Regions from separate parts of the Homo sapiens genome. Here region 2 is linked to region 1. Evidence: fine-mapped expression QTL. A gene starts in region 1. The other region holds a variant in brackets. All regions are shown on one strand. Distances are from middle to middle.

The links.
Region 2: its variant is fine-mapped to the expression of PAK6 in lung (TOPMed, PIP above 0.99). The same link has a PIP of 0.9 or more in subcutaneous fat.

Annotation. Positions count from the first base shown.
Region 1 is chr15:40,231,492-40,247,063 of GRCh38, forward strand. It overlaps PAK6 (p21 (RAC1) activated kinase 6), which reads left to right and starts at 7,572. Exons shown (of 11, transcript NM_001395430.1): 1 at 7,572-8,311; 2 at 9,108-9,190. All of the region lies in intron 1 of BUB1B-PAK6 (BUB1B-PAK6 readthrough), which reads left to right. It overlaps LOC107984763 (a long non-coding RNA gene), which reads right to left and starts at 8,210. Exons shown (of 3, transcript XR_001751506.2): 1 at 7,994-8,210. RefSeq lists enhancers at 10,833-11,332, 13,657-14,158.
Region 2 is chr15:40,257,863-40,273,434 of GRCh38, forward strand. It overlaps BUB1B-PAK6 (BUB1B-PAK6 readthrough), which reads left to right. Exons shown (of 10, transcript NM_001128629.3): 3 at 6,919-7,127; 4 at 7,980-8,633; 5 at 14,362-14,859; 6 at 15,004-15,137; 7 at 15,484-15,572. The coding sequence starts at 6,924. PAK6 (p21 (RAC1) activated kinase 6) reads left to right here. Exons shown (of 11, transcript NM_001395430.1): 4 at 6,919-7,127; 5 at 7,980-8,633; 6 at 14,362-14,859; 7 at 15,004-15,137; 8 at 15,484-15,572. The coding sequence starts at 6,924. Among named protein-coding and RNA genes, the nearest start is that of PAK6-AS1, 13 kb to the left of the region's middle. RefSeq lists an enhancer at 14,852-15,353. The variant T/A (reference allele first, on the strand shown) is at 9,141.

The DNA of each region.
Region 1 (15,572 bases):
TGTGACAGAGAAAGACCTCATTTTTTATTTTATTTTTTCTTAAAAAGCAAGCAAGTGTCTGCTATATAGGTAATGTTGTTGGGAAGGAGAAAGGAAGGATTTGGTAACACAATAGCATCCTAAACTCTGAAACGGATCGCCTGGGTTCAAACCCATGTCTTGTCATTTAATGACCTGAGTAAGTAAGTTAACACCACAATGCCTTAGTTGCATCATCTCTGAAATGGGATTATAATGGTTCCTACCCAGATTATAAATTTCATGGGGACAGGGTCTCATCTTGCTCACTGAGTTCTCCCCAGCACCTAGCAGAAAGCATTGTACCTAGCAGGTACTCGGTAGATATTTGTTGAATGGGTTAATTGTATTGTGAGGATTAAATGAGTTAGTGTATGGCAAGGGTTCAGCACAGCACATAATCTAAAGTATGTGCTCAAAAAAATAGTGTTTCACTGCAGGCTTTGTAGAGACCTTTGGAACCCTCTTTGAGTGGTCCCCAATCTTTCTGGCACCAGGGACCAGTCGCATGAAAGACAGTTTTTCCACAGATGGGGGATGGTGGGGGATGGTTTCGGGGTGAAACTAAATTCTCAACCTAGATCCCTTGCATGCGTAGTTCACAATAGTGTTCGCATGCCTATGAAAATCTAATGCCCCTTGCAGGAGGCAGAGCTCAGGCAGTAATGCATGCTTGCCTGCTGCTCACCTCCTACTATGCAGCCCGGTTCCTATCAGGCCACAGACCAGTACCAGTCCACAGCCCAGGGGCTGGGGACCCCTGGGGTGTCTTCTGGCTCCTTTGCACTACCTATGCCACCAGGCTTAGCAGCAGTCCTAGAAACAGGTGTATCAAGAAGACTCTGCTCCTGGTGGGCTGGGGCTGAGATGGCAGAGGCCCATCCCATCATATGCCAGAAAGAGGACACACTTGTGAGTCCAGGACTTGGGACTCTACAGTTTGCAGCTCTGCTCAGACTGGCTTCTGGGCAGCTCCTCACTTTGCCATTAACTCCTCAGAGTCAAGCCCCAGATGCCCCTTGGACCAGCCCCACTCCTAAGGTCATCTGGTCAGGGTCTGCAGGGGTGACGCTTTCACTGACAAAAGGATTTTAATTTTGGTCCTATCCCTAGTGTAGTCCCAGCCAGTCTTTGGTAGTCACCCACTTTTCCTGCTCTGACAGAGATGGGCCAGCCCCTCCCATAGGGGCTGCTCCCGGGAAAGGCTCATCCACAGGCTAGGCCTCTGCCGGGCCTGCTGCCAGCCACTGAGCCTTTGGCGATTGAGAGCTGACTCCCGACTGAGGTGTAGGCCTCCGTCCAGCCAGCACAAAGGGAGGCACATCCCTTGCAGCAGTACCCACAGCCCCTGTCACGGCAGGCTGTGGCCAGACCCTGATTGAGTGGCTCCCTCTCAGCCATCTGTTCAGTCACCCAGAAACAAGTCAAGTCAAAGCTCCCAGTGAGTTCCTGCCTCAGCCATTTGGTGTCACAAGGAAAGCCAGGGCGTTGCCACTTCCTGATTTGGGACAAGATGTGTAAATGCATTGAGCCTCAGACTCCTTATCTGTAGAACTTGGGGTAATGATAACTACTTCATGGTGTTTTAAGAATTCCATGGAATCACAGATGGAAAGAGCCTAGATGTACTATGCCTGACTCGTTGGAGACTTCACATAAAAGGGTTTTCAGCTGCTGCCACCCCCATCTTTTAAGTATTTTCACAATTCCATACACCTGTTCCTGGCAAAAAGAATTTCATTCCCTGTTCACTTACTTGAAAACCCCTCTTCTTTTTTTTCGAGAGAGAGGGTCTCACTGTGTTGCCCAGGCTGGAGTGCAATGGCCAAATCTCAGCTCACTGCAGCCTCAACCTCCCACGTAGATGGGACTACAGATGTGCACCACCATGCCTGGCTAATTTTATTTTTTGTGAGACGAGGTCTGTTGCCCAGGCTGGAGTGCAATGGCCAAATCTCAGCTCACTGCAGCCTCAACCTCCCAAGTAGATGGGACTACAGATGTGCACCACCATGCCTGGCTAATTTTATTTTTTGTGAGACGAGGTCTCACTGTTGCCTAGGCTGGTCTCGAATTCCTGGACTCCAGCAATCCTCCCGCCTTGGCCTCCCAAAGTGCCAGGATTAAGGCACGAGCCACCACGCCCAGCCTGAAAACCCGTTTTCCTGAGGGAAAACTGTTCTGGAAGTCAACAGCAGAGTCGCTTGCCAGGGCCACTTCTAATATTGATGAGATTCTGGCCTGTGCTCCCCTCCCTCATATCTTGTGTAGCATTGTGACTAGAGATTGGGTAAAAAGGGAAGACCTTGCCAAATGTTGCCCACCTGCTACCCTCTCCGGCTGTCTGCTGACGTTGGCCACTTGAGTCTCTTGTCACTGACTGTGCCCACCCTTGGCCCCTGCCAGCATCCTCCACACACCTTGCCCACAGGAGGACAGCTGGAGCAGGGCCACAGGGGAGGGCATGCAAGGGACCTATCTGACAAGGCCCTGAAACTTCCTTCCCACTGAGGACCCCAGGACTTGACCTAGTCATCCCCCACTTTGCTGCCAATACTTTGGGAGCAGGCAGATGTCCAGGAAGCGTCTGTTCCTCTGTACCCTCCCTGCCAAGGAAGGAGCTTGAGAAAAATCTCTTGAAGGTAGAGCCCCTGCTTCTGGCCTAGCTCTCCCGGAGGCGCAGGGCTGACGAGTGCCGCCAAGGTAAGACCAGCTCTGGAGTGTGGGATATACAGGCCTTCAGTGGCAACACCTGCTCATTAATCAAGCCCTTCCTTTCCGGAACCTGCCCTGGCTTGGGATGGTGGGAAGGAAGGAGAACAGAATCTGTTCCTCCCTTCCTGGCCCTGCGGTGAGAGGCGCTGACTAGTGTAGGTGGGTGGAGACAGGCCCATCAGAAGGCCTGAGTGAGGCACCCTCTGTACATGCAGCACAAGCGGGTGTGGAGTGTGGGGAAGCATCTAAAGATCTAGAAAAATTTGGCAGCAAAGGAATTTTACCCACACACTGGAGCCCTAGGCTTTGTTTCTAAAAGTTTTTATTATTCTTTAGGAAAACTTGGGAAGCACTAGTTTATGAAAATTTTTAGAACTTCATTGCTACATGGCCTTTCCAAACACATCCCCAGATGGTTTCTTTAAAACCATGCAGTGGGACAAGGTTGATATAAACAGTTGTTCCAGCTGAATCCAACTCACCAAAACGGTGCAGGTGAGGCAAATTACTTTTGAGACTGCAAGTACTGTATATGTCCATTAACAAAAACACAGTAAAAGACTTTAAGAAATTGTAAGGACACTGGCTTGACTGATTCATGCGGCTGCAAATCCCTGGGAGCCAAGATTCAAAGGCAGAAATGTCTGTGGTGACAGCACCACCACTGCCTTTGTCCAAATTACAGATCTGTCACACTCAGAGCTTGCTGCTAGCATGGGGCTGCCGTCGGCAGCAAAGGGAACTTCATGGATCTGTGAGGAGGAACAGCTGAGTTCCTGACTGCCTTTAATTTTCTCTGAGGCTTTGCTGAGTCACCTAATCTCTTGGGGCTGTGGTTTTCTCACCTGTAGAAGGAGGGACAGGGCTGATATCCCTAGAGTGCCTTTCAGCTCTGGGATTCACGCATTCTAAGGAGGGTGGCTAGAGCACAGAACCTCTAAAGATGTTCATTCATTCCTTCAACAAAGTTTACATGAGCACCTGCCATGTGCTAAGCACCAGGGCCGACCACTGGCCCAAAAACACAGGCATCTGCTGGCCTGCCCACTGCAGCAGCAGCCATACCTTTGCAGGCCGGTGGAGCCCCCCTTTCTACAGCCTGTGGAAAAAATGGTTCTAAATTTGCAGATCCTCTCATCAAATCAGGAAGTCAAGAAACATGATAGAATAGAGGAACTGGTCTCAGTTTGCACAGGCCATCAGTTTCACAAGACAGGAATCGAATATCAACAGTGGCTGATTATCACACTCAGGAATTGAAAATAATTAGAAAAAGAGGCAAAGATGCTGTGGCAATCATTGGCTGGTCCCCTTTGGTCTCCAGCACCCATTCCCCTTTGGTTTAGTAACAGCACCCTAACTTTCCTCCCTATATCGTGTGATAACAGAAGCACTCTCTCCAGGATACCCTCCCTGAGAGACAGGCATATGACCTGAGCCAGCCAATCAGACTCCTTCCCTGCAAGGATGCACTAGGTGGACAGCATGGTGGGAGCATCTCTCATCCAGGCAGGGGTGATCTGTGGGACTGCAGTCAGTCCTGTTGCTTAGAGACCCCAGGACTGCCATAGCTTCTGTCCTGGACTTGATTCTCCAGGCTAACAGAGAACCTGACTGATGCAGATTCAGGAGAGCTGGTTTGTTTAGTTCTCAGTTCCTTTCATGAAATGGCTATTATCTCTGCTAGCTACTATAGCAGAAATCTGGAAAACATGATTTTTCTTGATTTATGAAATTGTTGATGTTTCTTCAGGAATTTCCGCCTGCTTCTCATAAACTGGCAGAAACTTAGAAATGTTACATTTCTTAAAGAGAGTCATTGTAATTATTATCTGAATAAGATGATAGTGTTTTGAATTTAACGTAATAAACTCTATCTCCTGCCTTAGTGCCTTCACATCTTCATGTTGCCCCTCCCTCTAACAACATTTCTGAAAATTTGAAAGACATGAAGGAAGAAAAAGTGTTTTCCATATCCCCACATTGCCTTAAAGTGGACTTTGCAGAGGAAAATGTTCAAATATACAAGTTTTAGGTACTCTTCATAGCTCTTGGTTTTCTATTATTAGGGTTTGTTTGTTTGTTTGTTTGTTTGTTTTGAGACTGAGTCTCGCTCTGTTGCCCAGGCTGGAATGCAATGGCACAGTCTGCTCACTGCAATCTCCACCTCCCGGGTTCGAGCAATTCTCCGCCTCAGCCTCCTGAGTAGCTGAGATTACAGGTGCCCACCACCACACCCAGCTAATTTTTGTATTCTTAGTAGAGACGGGGTTTCGCCATGTTGGCCAGGCTGGTCTCGAACTCCTGACGTCAGGTGATCCACCCACCTCGGCCTCCCAAAGTGCTGGGATTACAGGCGTGTGCCACTGCGTCTGGCCTATTATTAGTTTTAAAAACATACATTCCTTTATTTTTACTTTTGTATTGTTTAAATACAACAGTACATGTTCACTGAAACAATGCAAGAGTGTAAAAAGTCCAAAGTGAAAGACCCCTCTCACCACCACTCCTATTTCCAAGGATAACCACATTGACAGTTTGCGGTTTAAACATACAGATATAGAAATATCTTTAAATAAAAAAACTTATATGAGATTATGCCATCTCATTTTCAAGTTAACATTGATAAACCTGGTCTTTTTGCTCAACTATCGTGGTCATCCTTCCTCATACATACGTATGTACATGCATACCGGTACACACATAGCTGGTACATACATACCGACTGACAAAACTCATTCATTTTAAGGCTGCAGATACTTCATTGCATGGGGATGTACCATCCTGTATAGATCTGTCACCCAATTAATCTGCCCAATTGATGCACATTTTGGTGGCTTCAAATTCTTTGCAGTTACAAACAGTGCTACCATGAATATTCTTATACAAATATCTTCAGGCCGATGTGCAACTATTTCTTAACTTGGATTCCTAGAAGTGCATTTGCTGGATCAAGTACATACACATTTTGAAATTTTGGTCAAGACTGTAAAATTGCCCTCCAAGAAGACTGTACCAATTCACTCTCCCACCTGCCATTTTTTTTTCACTGTATAATGACAGGGAGTGGTATATCCCTTTTGTTTTAGTTTGCATTTCCTGGATCATTCCTTAGTGAGACAGAGCAGAAGTGGATTATTTATAAGTTTACACACAAAATTACATTGAGATACAAAAAGAAGAAAAATACAGAGTTCCTCTCCAAAAGGAACTGATAACCTAGTTAAAGGGAAAATGTTTCATATTGACCACAAATTGAACTTTTTTTTTCTTTTGAGACAGAGTCTCGCTCTGTCGCGCAGGCTGAAGTGCAGTGGCACAATCTTGGCTCACTGCAACCTCCGCCTCCCGGGTTCAAGCAATTCTCCTGCCTCAGCCTCCCAAGTAGCTGGGATTACAGGCATGTGCCACCACGCCCAGCTAATTTTTGTATTTTTAGTGGAATGAGGTTTCACCATGTTGGCCAGGCTGGTCTCAATCTCTTGACCTCATGGTCCACCCGCCTCAGCCTCTCAAAGTGCTGGGATTACAGGCGTGAGCCACTGTGCCTGGCCACAAATTGAAATTCTTATGTTTAATGCCATGACATCTAACACTGCGTTCAATCAAAATGTCTACGCATGCAGCTTGAGACCTTTGCACAGAAGGTGCCTAGGGTCATGATTTGGGAAGATTAATCTGCCATCAGTGGAGGGGTGGATAAAAACTAATGTTTATTGGGATCAAGATGAGCAGTCTCTGTGCCAGAAACTTTATTCCTTTAATTTCCACAGCCCTGTGAGGCAGGTGAAATCATCCCCATTTTATGGATGAGGAAATTGAAGTTCAATTGGTTCAATAACATGCCAAAGGTCACTCAACTGATGAACAGTGGAGCTGAGATGCGGAAGACTGAAGACTCACAGCCTGGACTTTTAACCAAACACCACATGGCTTCGCTACAGAAGAAAGTTAGAAAGTTTTCAAAAATAAAATGTAGAGCCAAGTGCCACCTTGGATATAAGGGACTGGGGGACGGGAAGAGGCAAGAACTCCCAGGCTTCCCTCTGGCTGTCAATAGCTAGTGGGTCCTGGCAGTGGGAGCTGGGCCATCAGAGGTGGCGCCTGAAGTGGGGCAGGCACAAAATGGGTTTTCGGGCAAGCATTTGCCCAGGTGATGGTCAAAGCCACAGAAAAAAGGTGTTTTGATGGAGTGGTGGCTGAGTGTGGGGAGAGATGAGCAGGGGACCAAGCCTGGAGCTTGGGCAGCCCACGATTGGACACTAGGAGAAGAAAAGAAGCCAGTGGAGGAGACACTGAGGCTAGGGATGGGGAGGGCACTGTGGAAGGCTGGGCTCCACCTGGCGCTCCGGGGAGCTGGCAGGGGGGCACATCAAGGAGCTCAAGCTGCCTCACCAGCAAATGCCTCTGTTTCTGACCAGGGGCAATGAAATAAAGGGACCCGGTTGAGTAACTGGTTTCTGGTCCCTGCCAGCCCAGGAAGCCAGCACCCACCCTGCCTTACATCCCATGTGCCACTCTCAGCCTTCGAAGCAAAACCAGCTGAGACCAGCACCTGCCAGATCTGAATGCGCAGCTCCAAGTTCTGGGGGGTGGGGGTGGGGGTGAGCCAAGGAGGTCTGGCTTCTCTAGGGCAAGGGTAGGAAGGACAGCAGGGAGGCTCACCCTGAGCCCGGCAGGCAGCCCTTCCTCCTCCTCCCCTTCAGCAAAGAAAGGCAGATAAAAACGTGTTTTTATAAATAGCTCCAGCCCCAGCTGATTTGTAAATTCAGTGGGTTTTTTGTGTCAATGACATCACCTTCCTCCCCATGGCAACCCCCGACGATATCAAAATTGCCAAGCAACGTTGGAGCAGCTCGGCGCCCCAAACGAGCAGGTCGATGCCTGAGGATTTAATGGAGAAATCCCAAAGTGAGCCGGGGCGCGCGGTGGAGGAGGGGCGCGCCGCAGCCGGGGCCGCTGGGCCCTGATGGGCGGGAGCGGGGTGGAGCGGCCTCGCCTGCCAGGCAGCCCTGGGCGCGGGGCTCGGCGGCCACACTCTGGAGACAGCCACGGTCCAGGCAGGTGGGGGAGGGCGCTGCTCCCGTCCTGATGTGCCAGGAGCCGCCAGCAGCCATCCAGGTGACTAAGCCGGCCCACTAGCACTGAGTCACCGCCCGCCTCGAGCTGTTCTTGCTTCTCCTTTGCATCTGATTATTTTGGGAGCTGGAAACTTGGAGCTGCACCTGAGTCCCGCCCCTTCTAGCTCTCCCCTCCCTACCTTGGGCTCCAGGAAGATGGGACTTGCTGTGAGTCTGCTGCCACCCCCTAAAGATATGGAAGACGCTGTGGGGGCCAGAAGTGCCCGGGGGGCTGTGGCAGCAGGCAGAGTGCAATAGCAGATATGGTGGTCAGGCTGCCTGTGTGTGTCCTCTGGAGGTGTTGGGACAGAAGGGCAGTCTTGTCCGAGCTGACTGGAGTCCTCCCGGGCTGGCTCTGAACTCATCTCCCACGGGGATGTTTCGGTAAAGGAGTGGCTTCTGGGGTCGGAGTGGCATTTGGAGAGCGAGGCTGGATTGGCTTAGGCTGGCCTGGGCAGGTAGGTGGCTCTGTGTTGGGTGTGGACCCACGTGTGTGTGAGTGCGAGAGTGTGTAAGCCAGTGTGTGTGCCGTCCCCCTGCTGGGGACAGCAGCTGGGTCCAGCAGAGAGCTGGCTGGGGGCTTGACAGGAGTTTATCCTAACTGATGCTGGGTGGGCGCAGGCCCTGAGATGGGCGTCAGGGAGAGGGGACGCCAGACACACGGCCTGAGCAGGGTGAGGAGCAGCTGCCAGCCCCGGCAGGCCCAGGCCCTGTCTGGGTGCACAGGACAGAGACACAGCAAGATGCCCAGGTAGGAAGCCGTCCGGAGGGGCTGGCCAGGGTGAGAGCCCATCACTGGGGGGCTGGACAGCCCATCAGCTGCCCCTTCATTCTGGCAGGCCTGGGTACCAAGGAAACAGCTTCCTACCAAGAACCATGTCACTCTCTTATGCAGGGCCAGTCAGCACCCATGTGCGTCTCTGCTGAGCTCACAGGGACACATTCAGTGAGAAGGGTGCTGGCCAGGGTACGGCTTCCCCATGATCAGGACCCAGCGGGTGCCACCCTCAAGCCCCTGGTCCCCACAGGGCATGCCCCAGTGTGTGTCAGGAGGAGGGGGGAGGTCCCTTCTCCCCCACACAGCTGGCAGCTTTGCGGGCACCAGTGAGTAAGCTGCCAGAGGGAGGGAGGCTGTGTGCCCACAGTGGCAGGACAATACCAACCAGGAGCCTTCAAGAGAAGAGGCTGGGTGAGAAAAGCACTGAGGTTTTCTTTTCCTTTTTTTTTTTTTTTTTTTTTCTATTTTGCCTGAAGGGAGTGCCGCTTCCTGGGCTAGAGACAAGCACCAGCCTGCAGTGGAGAACGCAGGACCCCGCTGCCCAGAAGGAGCAGCCACGGTAAGGTCCCCACTGCCGCTGCGTGCTCCGGATTCCTGGGCTAGGGACGGGGGTGCCAAGGTGTCCAGGCTGCCTCCCACCTGGGACAGGGAGGCTAACTCCACAGCTGTGGGTTCCTGGGTCAAGGGGCTCCACTCCCCACCCGGCCTGCCACCTTCTTTCCAGATTGATTGTGAAACAGTCCAATCCCAGCTGGTCTCTGGCTCCCTAGCTAGAGGGAGAGGTGCTTGTTTCTACTCTTCCTGCCCCAGCTGGGCCAAGCCAGTGCCACCGGGACACCCCTATCCAAGGCCCCTCTCACTTTACCACCTCTGGGACATTTCCCTTGTGTATTCATTCCACAAATATTTAGGGAGCACTGCTGGGTCCCAGGCTCCAAGTCACACCCTTTGGCTGGGTTTGACCTGGCACAGATTCTGACTCTGAAACTCAGCATCAGGGCAGGTTCAGGGAGCTGCCTGGCCAAGCACGGTCACTCCTCACAGGCCTTGGTCTCCCCACCCCTGCTGCAGGGTGGATGACCTGGTCAGCTTTGGGGACATCGGGCCCAGTGAGCTCGGGTTTATAAAGCACTGGGCCCCACCGGGAAGCAAGGCTAACGTCTTGTGGTCTCCAGTTATCCTTTCCCTGGCATTGTACACCAAGAGGTTTGTGCCGTTCTGCCTGGGGTCTTCCTGAGGCTGGTTCTGGTGGGAACTGGGCTGCAGGAGGAGAGGATGAGCTTAGGAGCCGTGTGGCCCCCAGGCCTGGTGGGCCTGGGACTCAGCCCCACGGGAGCTCATCTAGCTGGGGTTGAGGCCTTTGGGGCAAGCAAGGAGTCCCCTCTGCAGGCAGGCTTCCCTGGCGGTTGTCCTGGCCCAGGCTTGGAGGTGGCACCTGGGAGCCCTAGTGACAGAGCGCCTGGTCAGGGAAGGGTCGGCACCAGAGGCAAGCCCTTCTGGGAGCAGCTGATTTGGATGGAAGCTCTGTGCACCTGAGAGGGGGAGTGTGGGGACTGCACGGCCTCTCCAGTGCCCCGAGGACAAACTGATGCTTTGTGAGTGCTCTGGGCCCTCCCGGACTTGCCAGACACAGGGAGGGTGCAGTGGGTGGGGTCTCCAGCCAAGGAAAGCCCGCTCTGTGCACAACTCCTAAGGATGACCAAAAAGTCCCCTGCCCTGGAGGAGCACATGTGCTCAGAGTCAGGAGGAACCCATAAGTGTCTCTCATGCCAGTGAATTCCCACACCTGGCTCCTGGATGAGGAGAATGACCCAGCTGTGGGGGTATCTCATGCTGCCTCACAAAAGGTGACTCTGTGCCTAGGAGTCTTCCATGCATGCAGAGCTGAGCAGGGGCTGCTGCCCAGTTGGGGTCAGAGGGGCGGAGGCTGTCGAGCACTAGGTAGACAGCAGGCCAGCAGCGGGCAGCAGGTTGGGCCAGGAGGGAGCAGAGAGTAGGGGCCAGGGCAGGCTGAGCAGGAAAGGAAAAGGCTGCCTGGGGTCCTGAGGGCTCAGGGAGGACTCCAGACAGCTGGCCTTCTTATGCCAGCCCGCTTCTGTGGGAGAGGCCCTCTGCGTAGGTGACTGGGCAGGGAAGAGGCTAAGACACTGAAAGATTGAATTCCTCACCCAAATGGCCCAGAGATGCCCACCGCACACAGTGTCCTGGGTGCAGAAGGCAGGAAGGACTCATGGGAGGCTGTCCTGTGGACTGAAGCAGAAAGTCCTTCCCGTAAGATGCGCTCGTCGCCCTGAGCAGGAAGGCCCAGGCTGCGGAAGCAGTGCCTGAGACCTGAGCAGCAGGAAGGACACCAGTAAAGCTCATCAGGAGGCATCTGGCCGCCTGCACCTACCGGGCCTCAAGGAGAGAGCTTATTTCTGGGAGCCTCCTTGGTAGAAAGAGGTGGACTAGCCAGCAGGTTGGGGAGGAGCATTGCAAATGGAAGCTTCTGAGGGCAGAATGAGTTCTGAACTTGCTGAAGCCAAGGCTGGCCCTCCTGCCCAGGGCGAGCAGTCTGCCTGGGCCTGGGAAGTTGTCCCCTTCTGAGGAGGTGCCCTCCACCCCACCAGAGCTCAGCCCTAGGGGCCAGGAAGGGCTAAAGCGAGAAGAGTGAGATGTGAGATAAAGGGGACCGTGTCTCTTCCTGGGAGGGTGTGGGGTCCAGGCAGCACCTTGTTCTGGCGCACAGGCTGCCAAGCAGATGACAGCCATGGCCTGACTACTAGGTGCAAGCACTGGTGGCAGGAAGAGGGGGTGGACAAAGCAGGACAGAGCTCTTGCCCTGGGGATGCTCATAGCCCTGCAGCAGAGCAGTGGAAAGGAAAGCTGAGCTGAGCGTGGGGCCAACCGCGCCAGAAACAAGCGGAGCCACAAAGCCACCATCAGCCCCCAGGTGGCTTCGTCCTTTTGCCAACTCTGGGTCCAACTCATCGCTGAAGTTGGCAGCCATGACCCATCCAGCCCAGATAATTTATAAATTTACACCAATACTGGGCAACGGTTCTTAACATAGAACTTTATAAAGATGGACAAAAAAGATAAGTTGAGAATGACAAACAAAGGAAGAAGCAGCTTCTATCTGCAGTTGCAGGAGGAGGTGAAGGCTCGGGGAGATAGACCAGGGCGGGAAGAGGCAGGATGGTGGTTGGTTAACATGAAGTCAGCAGCATGAGCCTCAGGCCCGGTGCTGCCTCTTCCTGGTGACTCGGGCAAGTTACTTCATGTCTCTGGGTCTCAATTTCCTCTCCTGTCCAACAGAGATAATTATAGTACCTATGAGTTAGGGTTGTTGAGAGGATTAAATAAGATAATAAGTGAATGCTCTGAATGGCATGACTGGCACATACGTACATGTTCAGCAAGAGATAACTATTATCACCGTGATGATAACTGGTGTCAGAGGAACAAAGTGCCAGGAGAGACCATACCTTGTTCGGGGGAATCAGGAAAGGCTTCACGGAGGAGGTGACTTTGAAAGAACCCTCCTCTGAGGAGAAACAAAAGCTCTCAGAATGCCCAGGAAAGCTGGGAAGAAACAATAATGCCAGGTCTATTTTTTTCCCAAATAGCATATTGTTTGTCCACTGAGGCTTTCTAAGGAATAACTTGAGACTCCTCTTTCTGGGGTCTAGACTTGGAGGTCTTGAGGACTTGAAGTGGGCTGCCCCTAGTGAAGGGATCGAGAGCCGGGCTGTGGCCCTGGCCCTACTCCTTTTGGGGACTGGAAGCTTTTTTCACATGCTGGTCCTAACTGCATGAGGAACTGTGTTCTGCTGAGCCCCATCTAAAGCATACACTTGGTGATGTGGCAGGCAGAGGGGCCAGACAAGGCCACGGCAGGCTCCTGGATCACTCTGGCAAGTAGCTTAGAAATGCCTAGTAATCGTGGGCAAGGTGCAGTGGCTCACGCCTGTAATCCCAGCACTTTGGGAGGCTGAGGTAGGCAGATCACAAGATCAAGAGATCCAGACCATCCTGGCCAACATGGTGAACCCCGTCTCTACTAAAAAATACAAAAAATTAGCTGGACGTGGTGGCGCGTGCCTGTAGTCCCAGCTACCCGGGAGGCTGAGGCAGGGGAATCGCTTGAACCCAGGAGGCGGAGGTTGTAGTGAGCTGGGATCGTGCCACTGCACTCCAGCCTGGCCACAGAGCAAGACTCTGTCTCAAAAAAAAAAAAAAAAGGCCAGTAATCGTGAGGTTCCATCTCAGAGACTTTTGTTTTCTCTTTTTTTCTTTTTATTTTTTTTTTTGAGACAGAGTTTCGCTCTTGTTGCCCAGGCTGGAGTGCAGTGGCACGATCTTGGCTCTCTGCAACCTCCGCCTCCCTGGTTCAAGCGATTCTCCTGCCTCAGCCTCCCAAGTAGGTGGGATTACAAGCACCCACCACCATGCCCGGCTGATTTTTGTATTTTTAGTAGAGATGGGGTTTCACTATGTTGGCCAGGCTAGTCTCGAACTCCTGACCTCAGGTGATCCGCCGACCTCAGCCTCCCAAAGTGCTGGGATTACAGATGTGAGCCACCACACCCAGCCTGCTTTTTCTACAAAGGATTATCTGTTCTATGAATTTAGGAAAGGTAATCCTAAAGCTTATTCACCTAAGAAAAACAAGGCAACCCCAGAGCATGACAGGCTTTCTTGGGCTGGGGGAACTCACATGTGAAAAAACAGGTTCCCTCATAACTACATGAGAGGCCGCAACTGCCTCAGCCCCAGCAAAGGGACACCTCTGCTGGCCAGCATTTCCTACAAAACCTCATCACGACACATCAGGCAGGGCAGAGACCCAAGTATTCACATAGGGCCAGTGATGACTTTTTTTGACACCTGTGGATTCTCCGTGGCAACCTATTCCCCAAAAGTGCTGCCTCGGTCAGCCAATCCCAGTGTCTCTCTGCCTAGGCAACAATCTCTTGTGCTCTGGTCTGCCCACAGCCTCCATGCACTCAGCTCTTTGGGCCTCTTGCTAAGGGGCTGGAAGCAGAGCTGTGTCCTTCAGGCTGTCAAGGACCTGGTGAGGGATCCTCTGGGTGTCCAGGGAAGCAGGTTCAGAAAGCTCAGTTCAGCTGGTGCTGTATTTTGATCTCTGATCCCAGTGCAGCGGGGACCAGCCTACTCAACTCAGTGCAGATAGCAACAAACCAGTCACCTTGCCCAAGACCTCCTGCTGCCTGCCTGCCTGCCTGGTGACCAGGACTCCTAAAGGCTGCAGCAGCAGCAGCAGAGTTAAAACTTTAAAACCGGGAGGACTGGTTCTGTGGCTCAGCTTCCTGGCCTGGAGAGGCTCTAGCCTCCATTTTCTTTCTTTCAGCTTATGGAATTGTGCAAGAAAGCACAGAGGGTGGAGGGAGCGAGGGGACCAGTTATGCCACAGCCTCCTGCACCACCAGAGCACAGTCTCAGATCAGCAAAGAGGAGCTCTGAGGAGGAAAAGGCTGCCCCAGGAAAGAGCTGGCCATCTCAGATTGCTGTAGCACATTCAAGCCAAAGGGAGTCCCCGGAGGATGTTTCGTCCAGCCCCCATAATTTTAGAGCGGGAAACAGAGGTCCAGAGAAGGAAAGTGGGTCCTGAGGCCACACAGCTAACTAATGGCAGAGTCAGTTTCCAGCCCAGGGATCCCCAGCTGCCTGCCCAGCACTCTTGCTACCCAGGCTGAACCCCCACCCCCGTGCTACCAAGGGGCCCATGCAGGAGCAGGCAGCAGCCACTGGGTAACTTGATGGCTTGGGAGAGGCGGCCTGGCCTGACACATTGGGAGGCTGGGCAGGTCCCCGCTTTGCTCCTATTGTGCTATTTGGGTGCCTCCTGCCATCCCCCTGCATTCTGCTAGACCTGAAACCACAGCCCAGCCCACGCTTGTCAGTCAAGTGCTTCCCGAGGATAAACTTTGCACACAGCACCCAGGCCACTCTTGGGGACCAGGCCACTCTCTGTTGAAGAGATCTAACTAATTTATAAATTGATTGATTGAAGTTCTTTTTGTCCCAGGTAACTTCATGTCTTAGGCCAAAGAAGGGAGTCATGATGAGTGCCAGAGATGAAACGGAGATTCTGGGGCAAAGGGTAGGGGAGGCACCTGGGAGGCCCTGTTCTTCAGGTGATCTTCTCATTAGTGTAGACTTTTGACCCCAGGCAGACATTTACATGTCCAATAGCCACCATCAGAGGTCAGTTCCCAGAAGCAGGAGGCCTGTCACTTGCCACCGGTCACCAGGCCCAAGCTAGACAAGAAGACTTTTTCTATTCCACTAGAGTGGATCTTGCTGATGATGTGTCTGGGATCCAGAAAGGTGGGGAGAAGTAGAGGTCTCAGCTCCTGGGGAGGGATGGAGCCAGCCCCGGGGGAAGAATGCAAGGCCGCCAGTGAGCAGGCATTCAGGGCTCCTGTCGAGGAGAGGGTGGTCAGGACAGGAGGAGGGGCTGCCTCATGGATGATGAGGTCCATCATCCTAGCAGAGGCTGTTGTACCAGCCACTGACGAGGGTGTGGCAGTGGTGTTACCAGAACCCTGCTATGTCAGCGTTCAAATACATGTCCCAGCAGGCCAACCACCCCTGCAGCAGTCAAGGGGTTCTGTCCGGTGTGTGCCAGAATGCTAGGGAAGAGAGGACCCTGAGAAGGATGGCAGCATGGCACAGACACGCCATGTGGCAGTTAGACAGGTCATGCCTTCTGACCCAGGGCACATGCAGAGGTCCACAGACTCTGAGGCCAGCTAGTTAGTGTTCCCAGGGGGCTGCACAGCCCAGAGCCTGTGAGTTTTGTGCATCTGGAGCTAAGGTGTTCTGCCCAAAGTGTTGGAGGTGGGCCTCAGGCAACAAATACCCTGCTTCCTCACATCCCCTTTTCTTCCTTGGAGCTTGGGCCTGGGCCCTCACCTAGTCAGGCACAGGCCTCC
Region 2 (15,572 bases), 26 kb after region 1:
TGCTCTGGGAATCCCCTTGTCTCTGTGGAACAGTAGCATCCGCCACAAAACTTACTCACCCCCTCCTCAAGCCAAGCCTGTGGGTCGCCTGGCTTCAGGCTGAGCCCCTACAGAGGGGCTGTGGATGCATCCTGTGCTGGACAGAACACACGCCTGCTGTTTCTGTAGCTTTTCCTAGATGCCAGGCCCTGACCATCACAGCCCCCACCATGACCTCTTGGAAACATTTTACTCACCCCTTGCTGAGTGGAAAAACACCTGGTTCCTTGCAAGATAAGGGTCAGCCTGCAAGTTAGGACAGCCCCAGGCCCCCTGGCCTCTGACTCACAGGTCAGCCCAGGAAAGAATTCAGCAGGCTTCTTCCCTGGAGGGGCCAGCCCTGTCCTACATACCTCACGCACATCTTGCCCGTTTCTGTTCATAAAGACCTCCAGAGAGGGAGAAGAACCACAGCTGACTCAGTCCGGGGTAAGCATGGTGGACGGAGCAGGGGCTCTGGAATCAGATCTGGGTTCAAACCTCAACTCAGTCATTTCCTGGTTCTGTGGCCTCAGGCAAGCTATTGAACCTCTTTGAGCCTCATCTGGATTTGTGGATAACAATTCCTTCTCTCAGGGTTGCTGTGAGGGTTAAATGAGCTAACCCTCGGAAGGGGCTTAGCACATAATAGGTGCTCAAGAAAAGTTTCTTCCCTTTCTGTGTCTGAGATTGCTGCTCCTCCAACACCACTGTCCCGCCCCTCAGTGACCCCAGGTACATAGCTCCTTGAACTGTCCACCAGCTCCGCCCTCAGGTTTACTGGGGGTAGCAGCATTTCCTCCAGAAAGTGTGTGCCAGGAACCGTCGGTCCCCACTGGCCAGGCTCCGGCTGGAGGAAGCCCCACAGCAGGGGAGCTTCCTTCTTGAACTGGTTTGGGCTGGACCCTTCCCTCCCAGGCCTTGGGCATCCCCCGATGCAGTCATGCGTTAGCCAGCAGGAAGATGCCTGCAGACATCCAGAAGAGAAAAGTTCAAAGCAGTCCTCACACACGGCAGTGCCTTTCCAGCCTGAGGTGGAATCTTCAGTGTGGCCTCCCTCCCCTGTGTTAAGGCGAAGTGTCAGCCAGGAGGGGCTGGGGCTGTGCCCGAGCTGGCCACCCCGTTCTGCTTGTTTCCACTTCAGGGTCTTAGGCTCACATCACTTCTTTCAAGCTGGGCAGGAGAAACGGCAGGGTCTGGCTCTCTGAGGGGGAGTCCCCTTCCTTCCTCCTCCTGGTGTCTTCTTGGAGGAAAGCTCCTCCCCTAGATGAATTGCGTGCAGATGGAGATGCTAGAGGGGCGACAGTAACAGCTGGCATGGCCTGTTTGACTTAACCTTGGGGCCCCATGGCTGGTGCAGCAGCCACCTCCCTCAGCCCAGTGGCCTTGGAGACATGGATGGGAAAAGGAGCCCTGGAAATGGCAAGCGGAGGCCCTGGCTGACCGGGTGGGAGTGCTCTGAGGACACAGCCTGATGCTGGGGAGAGGCAGGGCATGTTTTGTCCTGGGTGATTCACTCGCGATGACTGGGGCAACACTGGTCCCGTTCAGGTGGATGAACGTCTCTTAGGCACTCAGCCTCCATGGATCACTCTTCTCTGTATTTAAAAATATTTTGTTTTTGGCCGGACGCGGTGGCTCACGCCTGTAATCCCAGCACTTTGGGAGGCTGAAGGCGGGTGGATCACCTGAGGTCAGGAGTTCAAGATCAGCCCAGCCAACATGGTGAAACCCTATCTCTACTAAAAATACAAAAATTAGCCGGACGTGGTGGTGCACACCTATAGTCTCAGCTACTTGGGAGGCTGAGGCAGGAGAATCACTTGAACCTGGAAGGCAGAGGTTGCAGTGAGCCAAGATCGCACCACTGTACTCCAGCCTGGGCAACAGAGTGAAACGCTGTCTCAAAAAAAAAAAAAAAAAAAAAAAATTGTTTTTTTTTAGAGAAGCAATCCGTCGTCTTTAAGGAAAACTTAGAAAAAGAGTAGAAAGATAGAATAGAAGGAGATCACCTGTAGCCCCACCAGGTAAATGGGACAACTAATATGTTGATGTATTTCCTTCAAATAGCCATTGTATTCACACTGCATTGACAAATTACCATTGGCAAAATCTTTAAAAACCCCCTACCCCTAATCTATATCATCAAGAATTCCACTTTCGCCAAAGTAAACCTTGATAGTTTAATTTGTGTCTGGGACCCATGACTGTGGACAGGTTTAGGCCCCAGCAGGTCGTGGGATCCAGGAGAGACCACCAAATCGGGCCCCTCATAATGATCACACTAGACCTGAGGGAGGTGAGAGTCAGGCTACGGGTACCCGCCGTCACTCCCACCAGCTTTATTATTTTACCTTTCACATTGAGGTTTGTGATCTGTCTGCATAATTTTGGAGTATGATATGAGCTCATTCTTCCGGGTTTATTTTTTTTCCATGCAGATATCAAATTACTTCAGCTACATTTATTAAAAACATCATCCATTCCCCCAGCATGTTGCAGGGTCACCTTTGTCATTAATCAAATGACCTCATAAGAGTGGGTCTATTTTTGGATTCTCTCTTCTGTTCCATTGGTCTATTTGTCAATTCCGTACTAAATTTGCCAATTTTTGCCTATTTGCCTATTGCCTATTTGCCAATTCCATACTAAATTAATTATTGTAGCTTTCTAATAAATCTTAATATCTATTTAGTACAATCCTCCAACTTCGTTCATTAAGATTGTCTTGGCTATTCCTGGTTCTTTATATTTCTGTATACATTTTAGAATCAGTTCATCAATTTCTACCAAAGGAAATATGCTGGGATTTTGTTTGAGATTTAAATTAATCTGCAGGTTAACTTGGGAATAATTGACATCTTTACAGTATTGAACCTTCTCATCTATGAACATTCTTTAATATCTTTAATAATGTTTTGTATTTTCCAATATAAGGACTTTGTATTTTTTTGTTAGATTTATTCTAGATATTTTGTATTTTTAATGTAAAATGATATCTTTTTAAAAATTTCATTTTTTTTTTTGAGACAGAGTCTCGCTCTGTCGCCCAGGCTGGAATGCAGTGGCCTGATCTCAGCTCACTGCAAGCTCCGCCTCCCAGGTTCACGCCATTCTCCTGCCTCAGCCTCCTGAGTAGCTGGGACTACAGGTGCCCACCACCACACCCGGCTAATGTTTTGTAGTTTTAGTAGAGACGGGGTTTCACCGTGTTAGCCAGGATGATCTCTATCTCCTGACCTCGTGATTCGCCCACCTCGGCCTCCCAAAGTGCTGGGATTACAGGCGTGAGCCACCGCGCCTGGCCCTTTTTAAAAATTTCATGTTGTTACTGGTATGTAGAAATCCAGTTGATTTTTTAAAATATTGACCTTGAGCCTGGGCACGGTGGCTCATGCCTGTAATCCCAGCACTTTGGGAGGCTGAGGCGGGTGGATCATGAAGTCAAGAGATCGAGACCATCCTGGCCAACATGGTGAAACCCCATCTCTACTAAAAATACAAAAATTAGCTGGGCGTGATGGCGTGCGCCTGTAGTCCCAGCTACTCAGTAGGCTAAGGCAGGAGAATCACTTGAACCCGGGAGGCAGAGATTGCAGTGAGCTGAGATCACACCACTGCACTCCAGCCCGGGCAAGACAGCGAGACTCCATCTCAAAAAATATATATATATATATTGACCTTGAATCAGGGACCTTCTAAATTCACTCCCTTAATCCCAGTTTTATGTAGATTCTCCCGCATTTTCTACTTACACAGTTATGTTGTCCCACACAGTGTTGGCCTCACCACATTTCAGATGAGTCCTAGCTGCCTCCCTTTAGGTGGTTGATTGGTTGATTTTCCAGACCTAAGTGATGGCCTCTGGTTTCTAAAGCTCTACTCCCTAGCCCCCAAAGCCTGAGCTCAGCTGATTGCTTCTGCCAACTCCCACCCTCACCATCACCACTCCTGGCCCTGGGACACCCTCTGGGCTGTCCTTCTTTCTTCTCCAGCCTCCCTGCTGCCTCTGGGAAGAACTTGTTCCGGAATGGCTCACTATTAGAATGGACTCAAGAGAGGCTCCCAGAGTCAGAGACCATTTGCTAAAGATGCTCTCCCTGTGCATCCCCACAGCAAAAGCTGAGCGCTTGGGTGGGGCAGGGGAGTTGGGGAGAGGGCTGTTCTGGGGTGGGTGGTGGGGGGCGGATTCACCAGCTCTTCTTCAGCTGCAGTCTGTGTCCCTGCACCTCCAGAAGATTTCACAGAGCTAGGGAGGAGGGCGAAACAGGCAGCTCAACTAATCCAGGGATAGCAGGTCTATCCAAGGGACTGGGGGAATAGACCTGCTGAATAAAGACTCTTCTGTAGCAAAAGGCAAAGGCTGTAATCCCAGCACTTTGGGAGACCAAGGCAGGTGGATCATTTGAAGTCAGAAGTTCGAGACCAGCCTGGCCAACATGGTGAAATCCCGTCTCTACTAAAAATACAAAAATTAGCCGGGTATGTTGGTGGGTGCCTGTAATCTCAGCTATTCAGGAGGCTGAGGCAAGAGAATCACTTGAACCCGGGAGGTGGAGGTTGCAGTGAGCCCAGATGGTGCCACTACACTCCAGTCTGGGCGACAGGGCGGCAAGACTCCTTCTCAAAAACAACAACAACAACAACAAACAACAACAAAAAAGGCAAAGGCCAAAAGGAGGAGGACAAATTTTACCAAACCATGATGTATATATGGCGAGGTCCCCAGGTCCCAGACCCCTGACATCAGGCATGACCCCTTTGACTGGTAAGTCTGAGCAGAAAGTGGTTTGGTGTTACTCCCAGACTTGTATCTGCCCAAGTGCCAGTGTCTGGAGGGCCTGAGCTTCAAGACAGGGATTCAAAGAGAGGTGACATCACAAGAGAAACAACCGTCATGTATGGGGACTCTGCTTACTTCACACACCCTAAACCCTATGAGCTGTCTTTCATTAACCCCCCTGGCTCAGATCATTTCAGTTATTTGTTCAAAATCTCTCCAAATTATTAGTGGGAGACTCCCTACAACTCATCTGCAACTCACACAGGTTGTTTTATTCCAAAGGGCTTGGTCTGTAAGGGTCCTGTACATGTGGCTCTACCTCTAGGGGGTGTTCGGTGGATCCCGAACCTCAAGACCCAGAAGCATGGCTGACATTGAGATGTGACGTGGGCTCTGATTGAGTCACGCATGGTGAATTCCTAGTGGGGAACCACTGGCTGTCCAGGGTCCCTGCCTTTCTGCCAGCTGCCTCCCAGATCTGCGACCTCCTTCAGAACCTGCCAAAATGACTAGGAAAATGCTGTTTCCATAGCAAGAGCCAAAAGAGAACATGACGGCCCTGCACTCCAGATCTTCGGGCGGATGAGTAATCCAAGCTTTCAGTTCAAGAATCATGTTTCAGTTTCTTGAAGCCTGGAAGTGACCTTTTCAGATACATAAGAACCCAGTGAGCTGTTCTGAGCCTCTTCAGATCCAAAAGCATTCAAGAGGCAGCCCTGGCCCTGTCTGCCATCAACATGTGATCCCAGGTCCGGGATCCCCTGAAGGCGAAACTAGAGCAACCCTTTGGAAGTGTCCCTCCCCTTCCCAGGCCCCCAGTTCCCCACTCTCAGATCTACCCATGCTATCCATTGCAAGCCTGTGTCACTTCTGTGTATGCAGCTCAGCACGACCTTAGGCAAAGCCAGAATCAGCAAGGCACGGGACACAGGCTTGATTGCAGGTTAAGTGTTTTATTGTTTGTTTTTTGAGACAGAGTCTCATTCTGTTGCCCAGGCTGGAGTGCAGTGGGGCAATCTCAGCTCACTGCAGCCTCAGCCTCCTGGGTTCAAGCGATTCTCCTCCCTCAACCCCATGGGTATCCGGGACTACAGGCACGTGCCACCAGGCCCGGCTAATTTCTTTGTATTTTTAGTCAAGACAGGTTTTCACCATGTTGGCCAAGCTGGTCTCAAACTCCTGACCTCAGGTGATCCACCCGCCTCGGCCTCCCAGAGTACTAGGATTACAGGCATGAACCACCATGCCCGGCCCAGGTGATGTTTTACATAGAGCTCCAATACCAGAGAGAAGAGTGTCAAGGGGAGGTGGTGCTCTCTGCCTTCTCTGGAGAGCTTTACCCCTAAGTTAGCTGCCCCTCACCCACCCCAGGCTATCCTCTTGGCTCAGGGCCTTTCTGGAATTGAGGTAAAGCACATGGTAACCATGAAGGCCCTTTGGGGGCTCCCTGATACATAATAGTCCCACACCGGGCAGCATGTCTGTGATCAGCTGGTTGGCTTTTTATTAACGTATCATATTAACAGGTTCAACCATCCTGGGACAAAGCTGAGTTGTAATAAAAAAAAAAAGCCAACAAAAAAATAACTTTAATATACTGTTGGATTCAATTCGATAGTTTTAAGATTTTCATAGTTACGTTCCTAAATGATATTGAGTCAAATTTTCCTTTTCTTGCACTCTCCTTATCTGGTTTTAAGAATCAAGGTCATACTCGTTTCATAAAACAAGCTTGCTAACTTTCCTCCCTCTTTCCCCATTTTTAAAATTCGTTGACAGACAGTGGAATGATACTTGTAATGGGCTTTGGATTTTATAAAAACACACCCCCAGAGTCTGCCTGCTCCATAGGGGACTTGGCACAGGCAAGAAGACACCTCTTTTCCTTGTTTATAGTCTGCACTGGCTTATTTATGGCACGTTTGTTGTTTCTGGGACTGTTCTGCTGGGAGCCAGCCATTTCCCTGAGGAAGCAGAGATGGAGGTGGAGGGAAGCCCTAGGCTTCTAGGGGAGCTGTGCTGGGGGAGGGGAGGGAGCCCTGAACCTGGTGCCCCAGGCCCTGCTGCAGCCACCCCTCTTTCCCGGGAGGGAGCTCAACCTTACTCTGCACTTACAGGCACCATGTTCCGCAAGAAAAAGAAGAAACGCCCTGAGATCTCAGCGCCACAGAACTTCCAGCACCGTGTCCACACCTCCTTCGACCCCAAAGAAGGCAAGTTTGTGGGCCTCCCCCCACAATGGCAGAACATCCTGGACACACTGCGGCGCCCCAAGCCCGTGGTGGACCCTTCGCGAATCACACGGGTGCAGCTCCAGCCCATGAAGGTAAGAGGGGCCGGCAGGGATGAGGTTCAGCCTCTCCCAGTACTCAGACAACCATGCCTGGCTAAACCTCAGAAAGGCCCCTGGAGGAACCACCTACTTCACAGCTATCAGTTAATCAGCTGTTTTAACTCCCTGCCTGTCAGCCTGCCATTCTCTCCCTGGGTAAGCCAGGGCGAAGGAGGCTGGGGAGACCCTCTCTGCAGGGTGGTGGGGTTGCCAGATTCAGCACATGAAAATGTGAGATGCTCAATTGCATTTGTATTTCAGATGACAACGAATAGTCTTTTAGGACGTGTCCCATTCAATATTTGGACCTGCAGCCCCATAGGGACTGAGGGCTCTCCCAGACCAGGAGAATTTTAGTTGTGAGGGTCACGACTAGTAGACCCAAGAGCCTGGTAGAAGGTGGGGTCAGGGGCCCTATCAGGGTTTGGAGGCTGCGAAGCCAGTGTGTGTGGAGGAGCCCCCGGCCTGGTGTCTCTTCCTCAGAGGGCTGGGCACATCTCTCCCAGCCACCCGTGGAGCTAGAGAATGGAGCCCCGCCCCCTGAGCTCCAGCTCCCTGGCCCAGCCGACCACACCCCTGGGCATGCTGGATGCAGCCCCATGGCACTCACCATCTGCTCTGCTGACGCTGGGCCTTCTCCCCGCATCCCTGCATCCAGCACAGGCGGGACCCACGGTGGGCCCTGATAAATTATGGAAAAATTAATGGGTGGATGACACAGCAGGGAAGGTCCTTAGGTGGTCCTCCCCAGGGCCCCCAGGGACATTCTCTGACCCTGATCTCCCAGCCACCCCTCCCTGCCACAATTGGGCAGCTCCCACACACTCTTTTCTCTTCCCCCTACAGACAGTGGTGCGGGGCAGCGCGATGCCTGTGGATGGCTACATCTCGGGGCTGCTCAACGACATCCAGAAGTTGTCAGTCATCAGCTCCAACACCCTGCGTGGCCGCAGCCCCACCAGCCGGCGGCGGGCACAGTCCCTGGGGCTGCTGGGGGATGAGCACTGGGCCACCGACCCAGACATGTACCTCCAGAGCCCCCAGTCTGAGCGCACTGACCCCCACGGCCTCTACCTCAGCTGCAACGGGGGCACACCAGCAGGCCACAAGCAGATGCCGTGGCCCGAGCCACAGAGCCCACGGGTCCTGCCCAATGGGCTGGCTGCAAAGGCACAGTCCCTGGGCCCCGCCGAGTTTCAGGGTGCCTCGCAGCGCTGTCTGCAGCTGGGTGCCTGCCTGCAGAGCTCCCCACCAGGAGCCTCGCCCCCCACGGGCACCAATAGGCATGGAATGAAGGCTGCCAAGCATGGCTCTGAGGAGGCCCGGCCACAGTCCTGCCTGGTGGGCTCAGCCACAGGCAGGCCAGGTGGGGAAGGCAGCCCTAGCCCTAAGACCCGGGAGAGCAGCCTGAAGCGCAGGCTATTCCGAAGCATGTTCCTGTCCACTGCTGCCACAGCCCCTCCAAGCAGCAGCAAGCCAGGCCCTCCACCACAGAGCAAGGTAAGTCAGGAGCCTGGCCTGCAGGTGTCCACTGGGGAGTGGGTGTAGGGACACAGGCCTTGCCTAGCCTTCCCCTTGGAGGACTGGCAAAGAGGCTCCCTGGACTGCTTCCGCCTAAGGCGGCAGAAATGTGCACGGTAACCTCTTCTCTAAGGAGGGTGGCTCGCCTCCTCCTTCCCTCCCTTCCTTTCCTTCTTTTCTCTGTGGCTGTTGTGTTGTTTCCCATTTCTGTCAGTATTTGTTCCCAAGTGTGTGGCCATAGGAAAAGCTGGATTTGCCTAGTCCAGGGGCAGCAGGAGGCCGACTTGTGGCATGTGTGACTGCTTCAGACGCACATTTTTCTTGTGAGAAAGGAAAGGGTGAAGGGAGCCCCCGTGGTGACATTTCTTGGCAGGCAGAGTGGAGCGCACCTTTTTGCTTCTTCCAGGCCCTCCAGCATCCTGTTGATAGTGACAGTAACCTCTTTTCCCATTTGGCAGAGGAGGAGACTGATAGAGAGAGGGTGAG[T/A]CACCCCCAGGCATGATGGAGAGTGAGTCAGAGAAGGAAGGTGGGGAGTGCTCTGGGGCTGCCTGTCCGGCCCGGGCCCTCTTGGCTCATGACTCTTGCGTATGAAGGCTTTACAAGCACAGCAGCCACTTGTTCTTTAGCTCCTTCCTGGGAGGGTCAAAGGCAGTCCTAAGAAACGGCTGCTGACAGTGGCATGGGTAATGGAGCCTCCCCTCCCTCCTGGGAGGGCTTTAAGACAAGCCTGGGTACTCCCCTGTCATCGGTGGGGTGAGTGTGGCCCAGCCTGCACAGGGTGTGGGTTTGGGGATGACCCGGACTACAACCTCTCTGGGTCACTGCCTGCCAGCTGAGGTACTCAGAGAAAGTTCTGGGCGGCCGCGCGTGGTGGCTCACGTCTGTAGTCCCAGCACTTTGGGAGGCCAAGGTGGATGGGTCACGAGGTCAGGAGATCGAGACCATCCTCGCTAACACGGTGAAACCCCGTCTCTACTAAAAATACAAAAAAAATTAGCCGGGCGCGGTGGCGGGCGCCTGTAGTCCAAGCTACTCAGGAGGCTGAGGCAGGAGAATGGCGTGAACCCGGGAGGCAGAGCTTGCCGTGAGCTGAGATCGCACCACTGCACTCCAGCCTGGGGGACAGACAGAGCGAGACTCCGTCTCAAAAAAAAAAGAGAAAGTTCTGAGCTTTGTGCACTCTAGTCCCCTACTAGGTTAAAGGACAGTGGGTTGGGATCCCCATGGGTTGTGGCTTGATGTATCTGTGAGAGGAACACGAGCATCTGTGAGCTGCAGGGTGTCTGGAAGGCTGTGCCCCTGGGGAGACTCAGCCAGAAAACCAACGTAAGATCAGGACAGTGCACCCTGCTGGGAAGGTGAGATTCGGAGCTTGACCTCCCTCTGTCTCTCAGGAGTCCTGCTGCGAGGCCTCAGGGATTTGGAGAAAGGGGTTGTCAACACTGGGCTGGGCACTCATTTGCATCTTTCTGGGCTCCTGCCAGCACCCCACAGCAGGGGGAGAGGCCTGTCCATCCCTGCACAATGTACTGAGTACTCACCATGGGCCACTGCTGCTGGGTATGCCGGGATGTCCCCCATACTTGTGGGAGCAGGCGGTAGTTATCTCGAGCTCAGCAACACCATACTTCCAAATCCAGGGGAGTGGTTTCCTTCTGGGCAACTCAGACACATCTTTCAAGATTTCTACTCTGAAGCCAAGCCTCTCAATGGCAAGCTGAGACCCCCCGAGCTGCTCCGGGCCGGGGCTTCTCAGCGTCCTCACTGCAGGCGCTCAGGTCAGTCCATCCTTTGTGGTGGGCTCTCCTTGCACTGTAGCAGCCTCCCTGGCCTCTACTCACTAGAAGTTGGTGGTACCCTCGGTTGGAATAACCAAAAATGCCTCCAGACACTGCCAAATGTCACTCGAGCACACCCATTAAGAACCACTGCCTTAAGCAAATTCAATAACAGATGGGGAGCATCAGCCTTCCTCCTCCTCCTCCACCACCACCTACCCCAGGAGTCCCCAGATCAAGCCAGCAGCCCTTGGCACTGGGGCTGACTCTGGACACTTGCAGCAGCTTCCATAACAGCAGTTAGGCCACAGAGGCCATGCAGTGTGCCAGGCATGGCTGCAGGAGGGTCTGAGTATAGACTCCAGGGCTCCTGTACCTAGCCCCAGGCAGTGAGGCCTGGAGTCACTCTAGCTAAAGAGATCAGGAAGACAGGGCGTGGGGGCACAGAGACCAAAGAGGCAAGACAGTTTTTTAGGAGCTTGCAGGGATTAGACATGTTCCACTTAGAGTCAGAAGGGCAAACATTGGTTAAGCACCTACCGTGTACTCCGATATATGTCAAGGATACATGGCACCAGTGGGATTGCAGCATGGGAGTCAGCAGCCACGGGCGTCCTGCGGGTTCCAGTGCCTACAGGACAACCAAACAACCCACAGGGTTATGAGGATTACATGAGATAGTACGTTGAAGGCACTTGTCAAAGTGGTAAGCCCTCAATAAATGGCTTTATTAGTAGTATTTGAGATGGCGTCTCCCTCTTTCGCCCAGGCTGGAGTGCAGTGGCACAATCTTGGCTCACTGCAACCTCCACCTCCTGGGTTCAAGTGATCCTCCCACCTTAGCCTCCCAAGTAGCTGGGATTACAGGCACGCTCCACCATACCCAACTAATTTTTGTATTTTTAGAAGAGATGGGGTTTCACCATGTTGCCCAGGCTGGTCTTGAACTCCTGACCTCAAGTGATCCACCTGCCTTGGCCTCCCAAAGTGCTGGGATTACAGGCACCTGAGCCACCATGCCAGGCCGGCTTTATTATTTTTAAAAATATTATGCCATGGCCTCTCCCCTTTAGGATACTTAAGGTATAGCCCCCTAAGCCCACAGCTGGGGAGCCATGGCTCAGGGCGGGAAATGAGGCATTGCTGTAAATGTATGCATGACTCTTCTAGTGGCTTTCTTCCCAAGAGGTCTATCACATGAGTAACTTCAGAATTAATCCAGAGCCTGTAACAATTAATTAATTCTGTTGTCGTGTCCCCCTTTCCCTTTCTTGTGTGGCCTCACAAGTTTCATCTGGTCCTTGCTTGTGATTACATTGATAAAAGCTCCCTCCCTGTGGAGACAGGCAGTGAAGCCAACGAAAGGATGCTAGAGACCAGACCTTGCCAGGCTGAAGACCAAGCCAGCTCCCCAGACTCCCCAGCCTATGTCCCAGACTCTGCTTGTGCTGGGCTCCTGGCTGGGCCATCCCTCCCCCAGCCTCCAGACGCAGGCTCCGCCCTGAGCCCAGCCAGCACCTGCAGCAGCAGCAGCAGCACAGGGACCTGGCCTGTGGAGACAGGGAAGAAACCCCTACCTCAGCCTGTCCACGTGGTACCCACACATCCTCAGAGTAGAGCTGGCCCATGCAGAAGCCCTCAAGGCCAGGAGGGGAATGATCTCATTTTACAGCCTTTCTTAGGAGCTTCAGGATGAGAGGTCATCAGAGCCACCTCAGGAGGAGCTTTAGGTGGTCCCCAAGCTTCTGCCCCGACCCACCTGGATGGGTGCCTGGAGAGCATGTTTTCTGAGTTAAGTCCACACTCAGGCCAGCAGGCAGCTTCCTTAGAGCCCCGAGCCTTTCTACAGGTTGACTGTGTGATGCAGTGAGCCCTGCCCCACTTCCCTCCCTGTCCCTGCCTGGTGACGTCTCATGGAACCTCTGTTCCCAGGACCTGGTATCACAGCCTCAGTCATGGCCATGCGCCCTCCACCCCCCTCACAGCCCTCCCAGAGGCTCCCTGAGGCCGTAAGATCATACTGCCCACTTATGCAGAGTTTCTCAAAGTATGTTCCATGGGCCTCCTAGGACCCAGGGACCTTGTTCAAATGCAGTCTCTGCTCTAGGCTCCCACCGAATCAGGCTCTGAGGCGGGAAGTCTGCGGTTTCTCTAGCTCCCCAGATCTCTGCACACGTCCCTGCATTGTAGTGGAGACAGGCTCAGAGAGGATGACTTGCCTAAGGCTCATCACAGGGCAGAGCAGCCCAGGGCTGGGCCCCAGGTCCTGACAGCCCAGTCCAGGGGTCCCACTGCTCCACTACACAGTGGATGGTGACAGTGTCACAGTGTCACAGTGGATGGTGACAGTCAGGTGCTGGCGAGGACATGGGAGAATGTTTACTGTCCAAATGTACTCATCAGGGATGGAGTGAGTCCAGGCAGTCCTGGGAGGATTGCTAGCTTCTTTCCTGTGAAGGTCAAGCACACACTCGGGTGGGCAGGCAGGTGTGGGGGTGGCAGAAGTCTGCCCCAGCATGGCTGTCGGCCAGCAGGAGTGCCTATTCCACCCTAAGCAGGCCAGGGACTTGGCTGGAGAGTAGAAGCCCTGAAGCTGCGGGGGGTCGGGGAAGGAAGGGAGTGAGGGTTGCCAAAGACACTGAAAAGACTCTGGTGGGGCCCAAGGCCCAGATTTGGGGTTTGGGGTCCCTGAGCAAGCATCCCAGCCCAAACTTACTGCTTGAGATTTCCTGTAAGTTGTTTCAGCTATGGGATCAGGACCAGGACCCACTGGGCACCTAAGACAATGGCTTACATGATGGGTTTGGAGAAGTTCCTAGAAGGCTTTTTCTGCATCCCCTGAAGCATCCCTCTCCAGGTGCCCTTTAAAAACACGTAATCCCTGGGAGGGGTCATGGTGCATATCACCGCTCCTTGGGGAGAACCCAAAGATGGGCGGGCACCTTTCCTGTCAGAAAGAGCAGAAGGGCTTGGGCTCGGAAAAGCAAGAAGCCTCGCAGGCTTCCAGGGCTGGGCCTGAGCAGGGCTCACTGGGGGCCCAGGCTGCCCCTCAGCTCCACCTTCCCTTCCTCCCTCCCTGCCAGAGCCAATGAGGATAGGCCCCCTACCTTCTCCTCCCTCCCGGGGGCTCCTTAGCCAGGAGTTTCATGCCAGGGAGGAAGTGGAAGGACTCCTTTAGGGGGTCCTTAAGACATCTCCCCATCCCTGGCCTCAAGGCTTGGGTTTGGCTGGACCTACCCTCCTAACTCCAGATCTCTCTGGCACCAGATTCCCAGCCCAGGGGAGACACCTGAGAACCCCCCAGATGGTGACACACCTCTGTGGTCCTCTGTCAGGGACATAACCTCCCAGCACAGATTTGCAAACTCCCTGCTGCAGGCACAGGCAGGGCTATCGGGCCCCAGGTGTGGCTCCCCTGCCTTGGTTCAGGGAGTGGAGACACAGTTGCCCACTGCTCCCCACCCCACTGCCAGGCCTCTTCTGCCCCCATGGGTCCTGGGGTGGGGGAGCCTTGGGAGTGAAGAATGCCTCTGACCCAGATTCTTCAAGCAGCCTCTGAGCTCAGAGGAAGAGTCTGCCTCACGGCAGCCTCCCTGGGGTCTAGCTGTCAATCGCCCAGGAAGAAATACCCAGCGCAGGACCCGGCGGGGAGCTGGCCTTCTCTGTCTTCCCAGGTGCAGCAGAGCGAGTGTAAGGAGCTGTCTTGGGCCTGCCCAGCCTGGTGCCCTGCGGGGGACTGCTGGCACAGGACTGTGACTGGGCTTCAGCTCTGTCTGAAAATCTTTGCTCAGAGCACCTCCCTAGTTTGATCTGATACCCCGCCTGACCCTGCCAGAGTCCAGAGGTCACGGCGGCCAGCCCCTGCCTCCGGGAAGGTTATTCCAAATGCTCCCACAGCCCTGACCCTTCCTGTTGCTTTGTCCCTGCAGCCCAACTCCTCTTTCCGACCGCCGCAGAAAGACAACCCCCCAAGCCTGGTGGCCAAGGCCCAGTCCTTGCCCTCGGACCAGCCGGTGGGGACCTTCAGCCCTCTGACCACTTCGGATACCAGCAGCCCCCAGAAGTCCCTCCGCACAGCCCCGGCCACAGGCCAGCTTCCAGGCCGGTCTTCCCCAGCGGGATCCCCCCGCACCTGGCACGCCCAGATCAGCACCAGCAACCTGTACCTGCCCCAGGACCCCACGGTTGCCAAGGGTGCCCTGGCTGGTGAGGACACAGGTGTTGTGACACATGAGCAGTTCAAGGCTGCGCTCAGGATGGTGGTGGACCAGGGTGACCCCCGGCTGCTGCTGGACAGCTACGTGAAGATTGGCGAGGGCTCCACCGGCATCGTCTGCTTGGCCCGGGAGAAGCACTCGGGCCGCCAGGTGGCCGTCAAGATGATGGACCTCAGGAAGCAGCAGCGCAGGGAGCTGCTCTTCAACGAGGTGGGAGGACAGGGTGGGACACAGACGGGGGCGTTGGGGATGGGCAGTGAGCAGCCAGCCAGGCTGGACATCTGTGAGCAGGGGCAGTGGGTGGCCATGCGTCTGGGCACTGTGCCTGGCACTCAGGCCCCCGCCTGCCCCCAGGTGGTGATCATGCGGGACTACCAGCACTTCAACGTGGTGGAGATGTACAAGAGCTACCTGGTGGGCGAGGAGCTGTGGGTGCTCATGGAGTTCCTGCAGGGAGGAGCCCTCACAGACATCGTCTCCCAAGTCAGGTGGGCAGCTGGGAGGGCTGGACCCTGAGTGCAGGCTGCCCTCACCATGGCCCTGCCAGGGCAATGTGGTCTTCTGCCTGTGGCCCAGAAGACTTGGGATGCCTGGGCTCCCCTGCCTGCTGGGGTAACTGAGACCCAGGGGTCTTGGGAGTGGAGAAGAGAAGGATAGCTTCTAGCCAAAGCTCAGGCCCCAGTTTTCACCAGGGCTATGGCCTGACTGTGCTGCCAAACAGATTGCCTGGGAGCTGTGGGGCCTAGCACCAGGGACTCCTACTCTGCTCAGCCACCCCACGACCTGCCAGAGCTAACGTTCTCTTTCATCGGGTGGCCCCACCTTCCTGTCCAGGCTGAATGAGGAGCAGATTGCCACTGTGTGTGAGGCTGTGCTGCAGGCCCTGGCCTACCTGCATGCTCAGGGTGTCATCCACCGGGACA